Linked DNA regions of Homo sapiens: region 1 is linked to region 2. Evidence: fine-mapped expression QTL. Tissue or cell type: whole blood. Region 2 holds a variant in brackets; the other region holds the start of a gene. All regions are shown on one strand. Distances are between the middles of the regions.

What was found. PIP is the estimated chance that this variant, and not a neighbour inherited with it, causes the effect.
Region 1: it holds the start of LMNTD2-AS1, and the variant in region 2 is fine-mapped to the expression of LMNTD2-AS1 in whole blood (TOPMed, PIP above 0.99).

Annotation. Positions count from the first base shown.
Region 1 is chr11:555,454-563,453 of GRCh38, reverse strand. It overlaps LMNTD2-AS1 (LMNTD2 antisense RNA 1), which reads right to left and starts at 4,192. Exons shown (of 2, transcript NR_147607.1): 1 at 3,978-4,192; 2 at 3,348-3,675. LMNTD2 (lamin tail domain containing 2) reads left to right here and starts at 2,716. Exons shown (of 14, transcript NM_173573.3): 1 at 2,716-2,771; 2 at 4,475-4,598; 3 at 4,688-4,840; 4 at 5,206-5,293; 5 at 5,415-5,570; 6 at 5,814-5,882; 7 at 5,967-6,055; 8 at 6,357-6,619; 9 at 6,866-6,962; 10 at 7,079-7,262; 11 at 7,339-7,458; 12 at 7,524-7,720; 13 at 7,951-8,000. The coding sequence starts at 2,738. It overlaps RASSF7 (Ras association domain family member 7), which reads right to left and starts at 2,484. Exons shown (of 6, transcript NM_003475.4): 1 at 1,977-2,484; 2 at 1,562-1,692; 3 at 678-1,375; 4 at 137-265; 5 at 1-58. The coding sequence starts at 1,685. RefSeq lists enhancers at 1,106-1,681, 5,943-6,779.
Region 2 is chr11:502,318-510,317 of GRCh38, reverse strand. It overlaps RNH1 (ribonuclease/angiogenin inhibitor 1), which reads left to right and starts at 3,076. Exons shown (of 11, transcript NM_203387.3): 1 at 3,076-3,205; 2 at 5,322-5,494. It also overlaps a transcript of LRRC56 not described here. RefSeq lists a cis regulatory region at 3,722 and an enhancer at 3,638-3,807. The variant A/G (reference allele first, on the strand shown) is at 4,127.

The sequences.
Region 1 (8,000 bases), 53 kb before region 2:
CATGGGACTCAGAGGGAGCGCCCAGGAGGGACTCCTCTCTGGCTGGAGGCAGAGGGCCCTGTGGGTTGGGAAGTCAGCTTGGAGTGGGGCTGGGCCAGGTCCTCACCTCCCAGCCTCCCCCCAGAACCACTCCGACCTGAGTGCCAGGAGGGCCCCTGTCAGGCCGTGGGGGCGGTGGCAGCGCAGCCCCGGTCTGCTGGATGAACTGCTGCAGGTTGCACTGACGGAGCTCTCGGTTCAGCTCCTCCAGCTCCTGAGCCTGAGCCTGGGGACACATGAGATCCTTAGGAGGCACAGCCACTGGGCTCCACAGCCCTTGTGCTCCGGAGGGAGCACTTTCCCTGGTCGGGCCCTGTGACCCCCATATCTGCCCACGTCAGGGGTTGGGGAGTGACAGGGGATCAGGTCCCCGGGCTCACCTGCCTCCCGAGTGGGACCCTGTGACCCCCGTATCTGCCCACGTCAGGGGTGGGGGAGTGACAGGGGATCAGGTCCGCGGGCTCACCTGCCTCCCGAGTCAGACCCTGTGACCCCCATATCTGCCCACGTCAGGGGTGGGGGAGTGACAGGGGATCAGGTCCCCGGGCTCACCTGCCTCCCGAGTGGGACCCTGTGATCCCCGTATCTGCCCATATCAGGGGTGGGGGAGTGACAGGGGATCAGGTCCCCGGGCTCACCTGCAAGGCTCGCTCTGCTGCCTCCAGGGCCCGGCTCACCAGAGCCAGGCTGCCCTGCACCTCCGCACTCTGCCGCTCCTGAACAGCCAGGTCCTGGTGCAGGCGCTCAGTGGCAGATGCCATAGGTGAGGGGGGCCCAGGGGCCTCCGCTGCCAGCTGCAGCTCAGCCTCCAGGGCACGGGCCTGAGCGTCCAGGGCCTGCAGCCGGGCGGCATGCTCAGCAGTGGCCGCACTTAGTGCCTGCAGGCGTGCCTGTCCCTCTCGCTCCCGGGCCTGCTCCCGGCGCAGCTCTTGCTCCCAGAAGGCCTCATGGCCCAGCTCCTCAGCATTCCTCTGCACCCTGAGCTCCAGGCCCCGCAGGTCTGTGCAGCAGCCTGGTGTGGGTGTCACAGGGGCCGCAGGCCCAGGGCGTGAGAGGCTGGGGGCTGGCTCGGGGGTCAGTGTTTTGCGGGGCTCACAGCCCAGCGCAGCCCGTGGCTTTACAGGGAGGCTGGCACGAATTAGGCAGCGTTCCGGGGGTGGACAGCTGTCTGAGGAGGGCCTCCCAGCTAGGCTGGGCCCTGTGCGCCTCAGGACAAACTGGACATCGCTGGCAAACTGTCCGCAGGTGGCCTGGGCGCCCACTGGACACTCTTGTGGCAGCAACTGCCGCTCCTTCTCCCGAAGCCGCTGCACAAGCACAAAGCGGCCAGTCTGGCCTGGGAAGAAGAGGAGAAGGTCAGCCTATGTCCCCCCGACTCTCTGTCCACCTGGCTTGAAGAGTTGGGAAGAACAAAAAGGATCAGCAACCAGCCCCACTCTCCTTGGGGGAGACCATGGAGCTGGACCACCAGGTCCCACTTCAGCTCTACCTGCCCGGCCTGCCTGACCCCGAGAGGACTCACCTATTGCTTGGGCTAGTGCGATGACCACTTCCTGGCAGGTGGTCTGCTCTGAGACCCCACAGACCACACGCTGGATGCCATCCACCCACACCTTCAGCTCCATGGCCGCCAGTCCCAACAACATGCCTGTCCTGTGGGGAGGGCGCAGGCACCGGGTCAGGACCTGCCTACTCCTATCGCAGGCTGGTCCTCCTCTCCTCATCCTCTTGGCCTGCCCTAGAAACGGCTGGGCTGCCGCCCCTCCGCACGGGCCCCACCCTCCTGTGCCAGCCCCACCCGCCAGCCACACATTCCTGGGGTGGCGGCCCTCCGGAGCACGCATCCTCCCCCACTTCACCAGCTTCCTCTTGCCACGCTCGCACTCCCGGAACAAGGCGAATCATTAACCAGATCCAGCATTTCCTACTCGCCTCACCTGGCTCGGAGGACACTGCCCCCTCCCCGGGCGGCGCGGAGGCGCCCGCACGCCAGGCCCCGCGGCCGCCGGCATGGGAACGCCCCACCCCGACCTGCTCAGGCCGCAGAGGCGCTCGGGGTCGCAACCCAGACCTCGACCCTGCAGATGGAGCAGACTCCGGGTCTGAGCAGCCCCCGCCAGCCCGGGGAGCCCCGCCGCTGCCGCCTAATCGCTGCGCTCGCCCCGAAAGTCCCGGTCCCCGCCGCGGGCACCGAAGCCCGCGCCGCGACCCCAGCCTGGCGGGAGCCAGGGCGTCCCCGTTCCGCAGGGCGGGCGCAGGTGCGGCGCCGCCCCCGCTCTCCGTCCGGGCATCGCGGAAAACTCTCCCCAGTTGGAGTCGGCGTCCGGCCGGCTCGAGGCGCGCCCCGCGCTCCCAAGTACCGGGGACCCGGCGCGGCTCACCTGGGCGCTCGCCAGCCTGGAGACCCGCTCCGGCGCCGCCGCAACCTGCCGCCCCCAGCGCCGCGGCGCACCCGGGCCCCGCGCCCCCATTGGCCCGCGGTCCGCACGCCCCGCCCCTAGCACCCCTATTGGCTGCTCAGCGCGGGCGTTCCGCCCCCTCCCCGCGCCCATTGGCTGCCTCTGTCACGCCCCTCCCCGACCCATTGGCTCGTCGCCGCGCCCCGCCCCCCCCGAGACTACAGGTGTGGGCGGGTCGGAGGGGGGCGCCGAGCCGCAGTCCCCGCCCCCACCTCCCGCCTACCGCGAAAAACGCGGAAATGCGGTGGCTGCGGCCCGCGGGCAGGCGTCGGGGTAGGTGTCTGGCCCCGCTCCTGGGCCGACTTCCTCAGCAGCCTTCTAGTGTGGCGGGTTCCCGCCCAGGAAGGGTCTCTGGCTTGAGATCCCGCAACCCCCGCCTGCGTCCAGGGGCAGCGGGGCCAGCCCCTCCCCTCGCTTCCCGGGCCAGCCTTTGGGGCCTACCGCAGCTGCAGTAGTCTGGACGCGCAGGGGTCGCGGGGTCGCAGGGTCACCAGTCCCGGCGAGGGAGGTGGAGCCCTGCGGAGCTGGCGGGCGCAGAGTCCTGGTGCGGGAGGTGCCCGCTCAGAAGGCCCGGACTCTAGCTGAGGCTCTTCTCCGACACCTTCCTGCCCCTTTTGGACCCAGTGCCAGGCCATGCACACAGTGAAGCTGGCTGGAAGCCGCTCCTTCACCCCCTACCCTACTGTCCCGCCCAGGGCCCCGCAGCCTCGCGGTCAGCTGTGTGGGCCATTGATTGTTCTGCCCAGCTCAGAAAGAGTTGTGGGCGTGGGCCTCCTGCCCGCCTGTCTCCTGTGCTCCCCCAGGGAGCCCTTACATAGCCGAAAGTTGCAGAGATGAAGGGTGAAAGCTGGAATGATTGGGTTTTAATGGGTCAGGTCTGGGACCTGGCTTTTCTCCTGGAGCAGAGGGAATACTTGTCATGGTAATGGGGTAGCCCAGAGGGTGTGGACACGGCTGGGAAAAGTGAGGCTTCAGTTTGGGGGTCAGGTAGGTGAGTGCCTGTCACTGAGGTCAAAGGAGCTGTGGGCTGGGCCTGGCGGTGGAGGCGGGTGCCTGTAGTTTCAGCAAGTCAGGAGGCGGAAGTGGGAGGATCACCTGAGCCCAGGAATTCGAGGTTAACGTGCGCTGTCATCACACCGAAGCATTCCAGCCTGGACAGCGGAGCAAGACCCTGTCTCTAAAGAATTAATTATTAATTTAAAAACAGGCTGTGGGCAGGAGTGTACTATTGCCAGTTAGCGTTCAGCACAGTCCCCAGCTTGTCACTGTTACCTGTCTGCTTCCCCCACACACCCATGGCTATGCTGGGCTGGCTCACAGGCAGCAGTGCCCCCCTATTTATCCCGCTGCTGCTGCCAGGCTAGGTAGGGGATGCTGGGGCCTCCCTCAGGGTGTTGGTCACTAAGTGGTCCCCCCGCTAAGCTGAGCAGTGGCTCAGCCTCTCACACCTCCTCCAGGCTGGGCTGGCCCAGAACTCACCTAGGGGCCTGGTCTGGGGTCTCCCTGGAGGCTCCTGGTAACAAACAGCCCCACCCCTTCTGGGTGCTGGTATCCATGGCAACGGTATACAGCCCTTCCCTCCCAGGCCTGCTTGGAGGTCGGGCCTCAGGTGAGTGCTGGGGGTAGGGCCCTGAGCTGGGGGGACAAGAGAGAGAAAGAGGGACACCACATCACAGGCAAAGGGCCAGCACCTGGGTGGCAGGGGTACACGCCAGGGACATGTCGGGTGGTGACCTGCTGCGCCAGCCTGGTCAGAAACACACGGGTGTGGACACCCACATGTGGGTCCCTTCAGAGAGCAACGCTCTGTGAGTAAGTGGTGACGCCTGGGCTGCTCCAACCTGTGTGGCCACACGAGGCGCACACGGCAGACGGGCCCCCCACCCCTCCCAGCTCCCGAAGAACATTGAGAATGGCCCCCAAGTCTGGCCAGGAGGTTGAAGAAACCGAGGAAGAGGCTCTCCTGTCCCCCACAGAGCAAGAGTCGGTCAGTGGTCACCTGGGACCTCCAGCAGGCGCACCTGCAGCCCCCGAGACTCCCACGTGCCTGCCAGACACCACGCCCCACCCCGCACCGGTGGTCTGCTCTGCCGACCCGCAGTAAGGAGGAGAGGGAGGACTGGTGAGCCTCCTGGGCCAGGTGGCCAGGGGCCGGCCTGAGTAAGCAGCAGGGTCTGCTGCCGCTGCAGGTTGGCTCTTGAGTCCCTGGACCCTCGCACACTGCGGCTGCTGTGGAGACAGCGAGAACTGGAGATCCAGGCCTTGCGGTGGGCCATCCAGAATGGCGAGGACGCCCGGCTCTGCCACATCCTGGAAGAGGTGGCGGGGCTTCCGCCCAAGAGGTCTGCAGCACAGTCCCCAGCCCAACCCAACCCCGCCCTGTCCTCGCCCGGACTCCTGGTTTCTGTCTGACCCCAACCCCAACCGCTGAGGCAGATCCTTACCCTCATCCTTGCCCGCGCTGACCCTCCACCCTGATCCTAAGTTAACACGCTATAGCCTCCACCCTAACCCTGCGCATGTGGATGGGTGCTAGACCCTTGTCCAGACCAGCCGGAGGCTGGCCAGCCCCAGCGGGGCTGTACTGTGTGCCCTTGGGGCCAAGGTGGCAGTGGAGCCCCTCCTTCTCCCCTCCTTCGCCACTGACCTGACATTAGGAACCCCTGCCTGAGCAGGGTGGGGGCTGCTGAGGTCACCCCTCCTCCAGGAGCTCCCACAGTCAGGAGAAACTCCTGCAGAACCAGGTCCAGAAGCTGATCCAGGAGTTGAAGGAACAGAAGGAGCGAGCCCAGTGGGTGAGGCAGGGGCACAGGGAGTGGGCAGGGTCCTGGTGTTGGGGAGCCAGGCTGGGGCTGGCCTGGGGGCCTTCTGCAGAAGACACCCCCCCACCACCAACCACAGGCCCTCTCGGAGCAGGAGAAGGAGCACCTGGAGGAGCGGCTGCTGCAGACCACCCGCACGCTCCAGGAGATGGAGGCCGAGCTGCAGAACTTGCAGAAGTCCTGCCTCCTGCAGCTGGCCCGCTCCTCGTGGGTGGGCCGCATGCTACGATCCCAGACTGGCAGTGTGGAGGTGAGCCTGTCCCCCAAGCCCTCCTGCCCCAGGCTGCCCTCCCCAGCCCTCCCCATCTCGTCGGGTGCCTCTGCTGGGGCGCCCTGGCCTGCCTGGAAGCCTGCCCTGCTCAGGTGCCTCTGGAACTCTGGGCTCCAGCAGGGAGGAATCAGGAGGCCTCAAAGCACAGGTGAGGTCAAAGAGGAGAGGTGCTGTAGGGGAGCACCCAGCCCCTGCCCACTGGCTTCCGGTCCCCTCTTGCAGGTAGTGACGGCAGAGACTCTGATGGACCCAAGCGACCTCTCTGAAAACATTCAGGCCCCCACCGGGGAGGTGAGCTAGGCCTCCCACGTGTGTGGTCTGGTATCTGGAGCCCTGCGGGAGGGGAGGACCATGTGCCTCTTGCTTCCTGGCCAGGGCTTTCGGCTGGAGGACGTGGATTGGAACAGCGTTGCCCGCCGGTATCCCAACCTCTTCACCAACATGGAGCCCAGCTCAAAGCAAAAGTAACTGCACAGAGCAGGGACTCCCCAGGGGCCAGAAGGGAGGGCTCACCTTGGCAAGTGAAGACGCAGGACACTAAAGGACCATTTAGTGTCCCTGGATAAGTCTCTTAAACCTTCCAATGCGCGTTCTCTGATCTGTAGAATGCGTTGGGGTTGAGGCAGCCATCACTGTCCTGCCATGAACTGAGCCTGGGTACTGGGAGGCAAGAGGGGCTCCCTGCTGCACTGCCTTGTGAGGCTGGACGGGGGCAGGGCTGGGGTCTGGAGCTGGAGTGGCCATCAAGCAGAGCGTGGTCCACAGGCAGCCCCGGCCCTGGCCACAGCTGGACACAGGGAGCCCAGAGTCCTCTGGAAAGCATTCCGAGCGGCATCACAAGACCGTGGAGTGGGGCTCCCTGCCCTGTCTGAACACCAGCAGCTCAGGGGGCGCTGACTCCGACTCCAGCAGCTGCCGGCCGGGCCTGCCTTCCTTCGTGCAGGTGATAGGGCACCCGCCCCGGGACCACCGCGCTTCCTCCGAGCAAGCGCTGGTGCAGGCCGGCAGCTACAGCAGGGACTCAGAAGGTGCAGTGGGGCGGGTCTCCCCTGGTTACCCTTCACCCACCCTCCACCCCCTCAGAGCTGTGATCTCACTCAGAGCCCTGGAGGTGGCCCTCCAGCCCCCAAGGTCCAGCCACCTTTCCTGCCCCATCTGACCCTGGCCCTGCTCCCTGCCCCGCCAGGCGTTGCAGGCCTGTTCTGACCTCACGGGGAACATCCGGTGGGGACTCCATTCGAGGGTCCCCTCCCCAAAAGCGCTGCTCTCTCTAGATCTCCAGAAAACCCACTCACCCAGGCACGGCGAGCCGGTCCTGTCGCCCCAGCCCTGCACAGACCCGGACCACTGGAGCCCGGAACTCCTGCAGAGGTAAGGGGCGAGTGACCCAAGCCTCCGGCGCCGGACTGGAGCTGGTTTCCGGGCGGGGCGCGCAGCTGTGCGGGTGGACCGGCCGCATCTCCTCACAGCGTCTCCTCTCTTCCCAGCCCGACAGGCCTGAAGATCGTGGCTGTGAGCTGCCGGGAGAAGTTCGTCCGCATCTTCAACCCGTCGCAGGAGAGCACGGCCGACCTGAGCGGCATGGTGCTGAAGCAGCTGGTGCGCGGCTTCCCGGAGCGCCTGTACCGCTTCCCGCCGGGCACGCTGCTGGCCCCGCGGCACCACGTCACGGTGCGCCCCGGCCCGGGAGCCCGGCCCCGACGGCCCGGCCCGGCCGCCCCTCACCCGCCGCTCCACGCCCCTCCAGGTCTGGGGCGAGGCGACCCGCAGCGCCAAGAAGCCGCTGCGCGCGTCCTCGAGCCGGGAGCCCGTTCCCCTCCTCTCCATCCGCGGCTGCGCGACGCTGCTCCTGAGCCCCAAGGGCGAGGTCGGTGCGGGTCCCCGGTGGGGCGGCCGGGGCTGGGGTGTGGGGGTGACCGACGCGCCCCGCAGGTCCTCAGTGAGCACCGGATCCCACGCCGCGAGACTCCGGCCCCGAGGGTCTTCGCCGACGGCACCGACTTGTCCATCGACCGCTTCCCGCTCCCTGAGGCCGGGCCCGGCGCCGACACCCGCAAGCCGCCGCGCCCACCTCGACCCCTGCGCAAAGGCCGGGTGCGGGAGCCCCGGGTCAGTCGCCGGAGACCAGGGTGGGGACCGCGGGTCCCCGGGATCTGGCCTCCCTCCCCAGGCCCCGACCCAGCAGAAACGGTCCCTCGTATCCCCTCGCTAGGACGGACCCCTACTTCCCCAGGCCCCGCCCCGGCCGCCCCCTGGTCCTCCAGTACGCCCCGCGGCCCCTGCCCCGCCCCAGGCGCGGAGCCCTCTAGGGCCGCCTTTCCCGGGCCGGCCGCCGCCCTCACGACCCTCGCCCCACCAGGACGCGGGGCCTGCTGCCCCCAGTGAGCTCGGGGAAGCTCTTCCACGCGC
Region 2 (8,000 bases):
AGTATATTTATAGAAGTAGAACAGGCACAGGACTCTCCACCCAAAGTCACCCTGGTGCCTCTCTCCCCGGGGTCTGACTTAGGCCTTCAGCACCACGGTGTTTTCTCTAGATGGCATCTCATGAACACTGGGGGTCTCTTGCCTCAGCCTGTCCCTGGATTCCCTTTCATGGGGAATGTAAAAGCTCCCTATTTAAGCTAACGTGTAGGCTGGTGGGGCTGGATGTGAGGGAGGGGCAGGTGGAGAAGGAAAGGGCAGCATCCCTCAGATCTGTGTGGAGCAGGATCGGAAGGAAAGGCACACTCGAGTCGGCCAGGACCCGGGGAAATGAGCGAGAATGGTCAGCTCTGGGGCGGTATATAAAACTGGGGGTGGGAATACTTCCATATACTCCCAATTCCACAGTGGGTGAACTGAGTAAGTTTAAAAATAAGATAAAGACATAACGAGGTGAGGCAGGTAAGTTCAAAAATAAAAATGAAGGCCAGGCACTTTGGGAGGTTGAGGCGGGCGAATCACAAGGTCAGGAGCTCGAGACCATCCTGGCTAACACGCTGAAACCCTGTCTCTATTAAAATTACAAAAAAAAAAAAAAAAAAAAAATTAGCCGGGCGTGGTGGCAGGTGCCTGTAGTCCCAGCTACTCGGGAGGCTGAGGCAGGAGAATGGCTTGAACCTGGGAGGCGGAGCTTACAGTGAGCCGAGATCGCGCCACTGCACTCCAGCCTGGGCGACAGAGCGAGACTCCATCTCAATAAAATAAAATAAAAATGAAGACATACCTTTCAGGGGCTGTGGCCGCACTGTCCAGGAGGGAGGCCCGGCCACAGACACCATGCTGGCCGTGCGCTCAGCACCTATACATACCTGGGCACCTTCCCCACAAGGTGTCACAAAAGGGAGCCCAACAGCCATTTTAAACATTTTCTTCACTCTTATGAGAATTGCCACGAACAAATCTAAGAGATCATGGCAAAGAAAAGAATGAAATGAAACCAGAACATTTCAGCAGCTTTTGCAAAGATGTCAAGAGAACCAGTCCAGGAGTCAGACTGGCGGCATCCTTCCAGCTTCTTGTCATGAATTCTAAACCTCACATCCAGACTCCAAAGCTTAGAGAGTTAAAGAATCAGCTACTGGTCACCAAGCTCACGTGTGCAGGATGAGGGTCACAGCCAGGTTGGCTGCCTTCCAGCCCTGAGCTTTCTTGGGGGTGTGTGTGTGTGTGTGTGAACCACCTTCTTTTTGAGACGGAGTTTCTTTTTTCTTTTTTGAGATGGAGTTTCGCTCTTGTTGCCCAGGCTGGAGTACAGTGGCACGATCTTGGCTCACTGCAACCTCTGCCTCCTGGGTTCAAGTGGTTCTCCTGCCTCAGCCTCCTGAGTAGCTGGGATTACAGGCATGCACCACCATGCCTGGCTAAGTTTTTGTAATTTTAGTAGAGATGGGGTTTCATCATCTTGGCCAGGCTGGTCTTGAACTCCTGACCTCAGGTGATCTGCCTGCCTTGGCCTCCCAAAGTGTTGGAATTACAGGTGTGAGCCACCGCGCCCAGCCAGAGTTTCATCTTGTTGCCCGAACTGGAGTGCAATGGTGTGGTCTAGGCTCGCTGCAACCTCTGCTTCCCGTGTTCAAGCGATTCTCCTGCCTCAGCCTCCCAAGTAGCTGGAATTACAGGTGCCCACCACCATGCCTGGCTAATTTTTGTATTTTTAGTAGAGATGGGGTTTCACCACGTTGGCCAGGCTGGTCTTGAACTCCTGACCTCAGGTGATCCACCCTTCTCGGTCTCCCAAAGTGTTGGGGTTACAGGTGTGAGCCACCACGCCCGGCCAGAACCACCTTCTTTAAAGATGATCAGGCCGGGTGTAGTGGCTTATGCCAGTAATTCCAGCGATATGGGAGGCTGAAGCAGGAGGATCACTTGAGCCCAATTCAAGACCAGGCTGGGCAACACAGGGAGACCTCTTCTCTACATAAAATACAACAATTAGCCAGGCGTGCTGGCGCCTGTGGTACCAGCTACTTGGGAGGCTGAGGCGGGAGGATCACTGGAGTCCGGGAGGTGGAGGCTGCAGCGAGCTGGGATCGCGCCACTGCAGTACAGCCTAAGCAGTGGAGTGAGACCCTGTCTCGAAAACAAATACCTAATAAAGGCAGTCAGAGGAGAGGTTTAGCAAATTGCTAAAGAACAAATCTGAGATACCGTTAGTTTCCTTACTTGCAATCTTCATCTGCCAAAATGTCAATTCTGTGAATTGCGGACTAGTCAAAAACTTAAAGAAAACCCACTTTTGTGGAGGTGGGGTCGCTTTGCGTTTCCCAGGCTGGTCTGGAACTCGGCCTGCGCCCCTCAGTGCCAGGGCTCCAGGCGACGCTCGGGTGTCGGCAGCAGAGTGGACGCAGGAGCAGCTCGGACCGCGCTCAGAACACTCGGGACGAGGCCGCGGCTCCGCAGGCCTTGCGGGCTGGGGTCCCACGAAACAAAGGCGGCAGCCAGTGGCCAGGACGGGCAGCGTGGTTCACGGGGCCGTGGCTCCCTCGGGGGTCGCGAGCTCGGCGCAAACGAGCCCCTCTACCAAGGTCGCCTAGAGTCGCGACCCCGACATGCGGAGCCGCCCCAGGGGGGTTTCTCCCGGGTCCCTCCTGTCCCGAGGCGGCCGCTTTCTCCGGGGGCCGCGCCCCGCGCCCCAGCAAGGCCCGACCCGCGCCTGCGATTCCGCCCCCAAGGCGCTGCCGCACCGGGCCCCGGCCTCTTCCTCCGAGGATTCTCAGGAATTGCTGAGACTTGCGTGCCAGTGCGAGGCCCACAACACGCACACGCGCCCGCGCCCGCCAGACCCCGCCCCCGGCACCAAGCCCCGCCTACTGGGGGAGACCACGCCCCCAAGCGAGACCTCCCTCACCGAGCCACGCCCCACCAGGCCCCGCCGCTGCGCCAAGACTGTGCTTAGCCGAGCCCCGCCCGCCGGGCCCCGCCCCGACCCCGAGACTACTCCCGCCAGGCCCCGCCCCCGCGCCGAGCCCCGCCCAGTAGTCCCCGCCCACGCACCTGACCACGCCCACGAGCCGGCTCGAACACGCCCGCGCCGCTGACTGGCGGGTGGGGTTGTCGACACGTTCAACCCGTTCTGCTGGCTCGAGAACGAAGTAGGCCGTCTCGCTCTGGGTCTCCAGGCCCGCGACCGTCCGCCAGTCGTCCCGAGGTCAGTAGCTCCAGCGGTGCGTCAGCGTCTAGCCAGGCCTCGCCCACGCCGGCCTTGGTCGGGCTTCTTGTAGACGCGGGCCTGGCGCTATTGAGGCCGTTGCTGCGCGGGCGAGTGGCGCGCTCCCGTGGCGGGGCGGGGTCGGGCGGGGCAGGGGTCCGGGGCTATCGAGGCGGGGCCGAGGTTGCGCTGGGCAGCTGCGCCGCCGGGCGGACGTGGCGCGCCTTGAGGACGTCATCGCGGTGCACGCTCCCCTTTGGGGCTTGCCGGAAGTCCTTGCCCGGGGCGCGGGGCTGCGCCTGCGTGGTTCGTCCTCACGTGGCCGTCAAGCCCTCTAGTGCCTTAGATTCCAGCGAGCTACGCAAGCAATCCTGGCCCAGCCGAGCTTGCTTCCCCAAATCCCGTAATCCTTGACCTTATTCCCCCAAAGAAGCGGCCTCCCGGGAAGGAGCGCCCTGGCGGAGAAGACTCGAACGGCTCCCACAGCCGGGCGTTGGGGGAAAGGTGGGCGGTCTTGGTCGTGCGAGGTCGGGGAGGGAGGGTCCTCCGCTCTCCATTGCGGAGCTTCGCTCCGGGACCACCGGGGGACCGGACGCCGGGCCGCGAAGCTGCCGCCTGGGGCTGCGGGGAGGAGAGCAACATAACTGGAATGGCACTTAGGGGCCGGTGTCAGGGTTGTCACCGGGGTTGGCGGAAATGACGAAGGGGCCCCAGGCACGTCGTGTTACTGGGCGAGGTTCCAGCCAAGGTGCCCACGCGCCTTGGGGGAAACCAGAGGACTTCTGCACCGTTTCCCGAGGACAGTTTGGCAGTGTTTCAGAAGGGCCTTAGAACCAGGCAGGCCCCCTTCTAGGATGGTGGAAAGCCTAAAGATCTGAAAACGGTCTCAAGTGTCGTCTTAGCGATTGGCTGACTAAACCG[A/G]ATGCAAGCCGGAGACTGCACACGATGTTGCCGTTAACAGTTACACTGGGCCGGGCAGTCAGAGGCAGGCGGATCACCTGAGGTCAGGAGTTCGAGAACAGCCTGGCCAACATGGTGAAAACCCGTCTCTACTAAAAATACAAAATTAGCCGGGCGTGGTGGCAGGCGCCTATAATCCCAGCTACTTGGGAGGTTGAGGTAGGAGAATGGCTTGAACTCAGGAGGCGGAGGTTGCGGTGAGCCGAGATCGTGCCACTGCACTCCAGCCGGCTGACAAGAGCGAAACTCCTTCTCAAAAAAAAAAAAAAAAAAAAAAAGTTACATTAGGCTGGGTGCGCTGCAGCCTGTAATCCCAGCACTTTGGGAGGCCGAGGCGGGCGGATCTCTTGAGCCCAGGAGTTTGCGACCAACATACTGAGTTTGGCCAAAATAGTGAGACCCCCGTCTCTACAAAAGATAGAAAAAATTAGCCAGTTGCGGTAGTGAACGCTTGTAGTCCCAGCTACTTGGGACGCTGAGGGAGGAGGAGCACTTGAGCCCTGGAAGAGGAGGCTGCAGTGAGCTATTTTCTCATCCCTGCTATAACGAATTTGTCACAGGCTGTTTTATAGGCCTGGAGCTCAGAAGCCCGAAGTGAGTTTTAGGAGGTTAAAATCAAGGTGTTGGCAAGGGTAGTTCCTTCTGGAGTTTCCCAAGGAGAATCTGCTTCTTTTCCTCTTCCAACTTCTAGAGGCCACCTTCTTCCATCTTCAAAACCTACTGTCTCTGCATAAGAACTCTCATGATTATATGCCGGCCGCCCAGACACCCCAGGGTAGCCTTCACATCTCAATATTCTTAATATTTGCAAAGTCCCTTTTGCCACTTAAGGTAACACCACAGGTTTGGAGATTAGGAGGTGGACATCTTTCAGGGCCATTCTTATTTTAAAAAATGTACTGTCGATAAGAATAGTTAAAATGTAAAATATTTGAAGGGATTTATTCTGAATCGAATATGAGTGACCGCGGCCGGTGACACAGCCCTCAGGGGATCCTGGGAACATGTGCCCAAGGTGGTTGGGGCAGTTTGGTTTTACATGTTTTAGAGAGACATGAGGCATTAATGAAATACATTTAAGATATCCATTGGTTTGGTCCAGAAAGGCGGGACCAAACAAAAAAAAAAAGATTTTGAACATGCTTCCCGAGCTCAGGCATGAAGAACTCTTGACTGACAGAAACGGAGGGTGTGTCCAAAGTTTTGAGGACGGCCGAGCGGCGCTCCAAAACCCGTCCTCACAGCCTCGCCCCGTTCGCCTCAGCTACAACAAATCATCGTCAACCTGTTCCACCTTCTCCAGTCTGGTAGCAAAAAGGGGTGTCTCAGGTTTGCTTTATTTTATTGTTTGGGCAATTCCTGGAATCCGGCCTGCTTGTGGGAGGAGGCAGGGGCCGGTCCCTCGAGGGTGGTGGGAGCTGCCAGAGCTGGAGGGATGGTCTGGGGGAAGGCGGCTGTACGGTGGAAAGGCTGGTTGGGGCCAGAGTGGGAAACGGGATGCGGACGTCAGGCTTCACCCCCGACCCAGGGGGGAGTGGGAAAGCTGGGGTAGTAGCTGGGACGAGGCCCGGGGGCTGAGCCCAGAGGGTCGAGTGGGCGACGACTAGCGGGCGCGGCCCCCAGGGTGGACTCCCCGCCAGCCCCGGCCTGGAGGCTCCGCCCGCCCCCGCCTGGGCGGAAGGAACGCGGAGCGGCTCTGGCCTTGGGTCTGCGGCGGCGGCGTCGGGTGAGCGTCCCGGGCGGAGCGGGCGCGGGCGGGGGCAGAGAGGCAGGGGAGACCCCCTTCGTGTTTTTGTGAGGTTTCCTCCCAGCCCTTTAGTCTGCAGCAGGGTGTCCAGAACTAGCAGGTTCGAGGGACTCGACGCGGGCGCGGGCGGGGGTCCCAGGGACCGGGAACTTTTGCGCGTCGCCTGAGCGTGGCCCGTGTCTCCCTAGAGGGTGGCCCCGCGCCCCCGTCACGTCGGAACATAAGGACCTGAATTGGCCTCCAGACGGCCCCTCCCATGTGGCTCCCCAGGGTGGGGCCCAGGCCTTGGGTGCTGCGGAGACCTCCCTCCGTAAGGTTGAGAAAGTCTGGTCTCCGGATAAGGGACCGTTAGGGCCTCTGTTCAGATCCCTGCCTCAACCAAAGCAGGCTGCCAGCTGGTGGTAGTGGGTTCCTGAATGTGCTTTTAGCTTTGGCTGTGTAGGGAGCCAGGGACTTCTCCAGTCACAGAGAAGGGCGTTTACTCCCGCATTTTCATGGGGTCCTCAGTGGGATCCGTGACCCACAGAGATTCAGAAGGGCCTTTCTGGGATACAACAGGGTCTGGCCAAGCCTGAGGGGTAGGGACGGGGCTACTCCCGCAGCGCTAGTTGCAGATGGTCACGGGAGCACTGGCCACCCTGAGCTCCCACCAAGCTTTCCCAGGAGGAGGACACCCTGGGGCCACCTTTCATCTGGCTGCAGAGGACACAGGAGTGTCAGGCTGGATTTGGGGAGCGTGTGCACCCTGGGCAGCCCCCTGAGGCTCTCCTTCCACCCGCCCTCCCGCCCACAGTGCCTCCTGATGACTAGATTCTGGAGTCAGAATTTGGGTGACCACACCCTGGTCGGTTTTGCTCACGTGCTTCGGGTCGGTTGGATTCAGTTCCTCCATGTGGGGCCGTGGGATGTCACCACCCTTTGCCACTGTCCTTGCAGGCCGGGCGCCCAGGCGTGTGGACCCGAGCCCAGCCTTGCGTCTTTCCTCCCAGTTGGTACCAGGGGCCTCTTGCCTCCACTCATGCAGAGTGGACCAGCCGCCTCTGAAGCAGCCCCGGGGAGAGGAGTGCCAGGCACACAGACTCAGGAAGCTGGGGGTGTCAGGGCACCAGGAGCCTCTCAAGCGGTCCTGTTGGCCGTCTTTCTGAAGGGCAGCTGGGGTTGCATCATTTCCCCAAGTGGATCCTGCCAACTTTCTGGGGCTTCTGGATGAGAGCCCTCTCCCCACCCCACCCACCCCTCCCCGCATTGTGGCATCAGTGCTGCTGCTTCCAGGGAGCCTTCCTGGCCATCCAAGCCTCCTCTCCAGGTTCCTGCCCTGCTGTAGTCCCCAGGCCAGTGCTTGGCAGGTGCTCAGGGAATGTATCCACCAACCAAGGTTTGGGGTGGCTGTCTCTGCCTGACCACTTTCCCCAGGCCCCTGGCGGGTACCTGAGCTGTGCTCTCAGGGCCTCAGGAACCTCCTTCCATATTCAGGGCCTGTGCCTGGGGAGGCTTCAGGGTGTAGCAGCTGTGCCCATCCCAGGCTGACCCACCCAGCTTGCCTGGTAGCCCAGCCTCTGGGCTAGTGTGCCGTGGGGCAGGGGATGTGCTGTAGCCTGGTGCAGAGTCCCCAACCCCAGAAGGGGGCCATGGAAGCTGACACCCCAAGTGGCCGCCCCCCTGCTCTGTCTTGCTTCGGACACTGTGGCCGGGTCCAGGATCCTGGCATCCTGGGAGGTCTCTGGCTTTGTGGGCAGCCTGCCTGGCCCGCACAGTCTGCCTGTCCTGAGGGTGAGACACAGGTCAAGCCCACAGACCCCCTTGCTCCCCTGCTGGGGCCTCCAGGCTCACAGACCACCCCACCCTACCCTGTCCTTGCCCAAGCAAATGAGAGGCAGGGGCTTCCCGGGCTGCTGCTGTCCCGCCCTCTGTGGGGCAGGAGGAGGTGCCCACAGAGGCTGGGTGGTGATAGCCAGGAGATGGGCTGGCATCTGCATTACCCAAGCTCTGCTGCCCATGGTGGCCTTTCTGGGGGTGGGTGCTGGTCCCTGCCCCCTGCCCCACCCCTGATGTCTGCTCCAGAGACAAAGGTGGGGAGGGTGCTGAAGA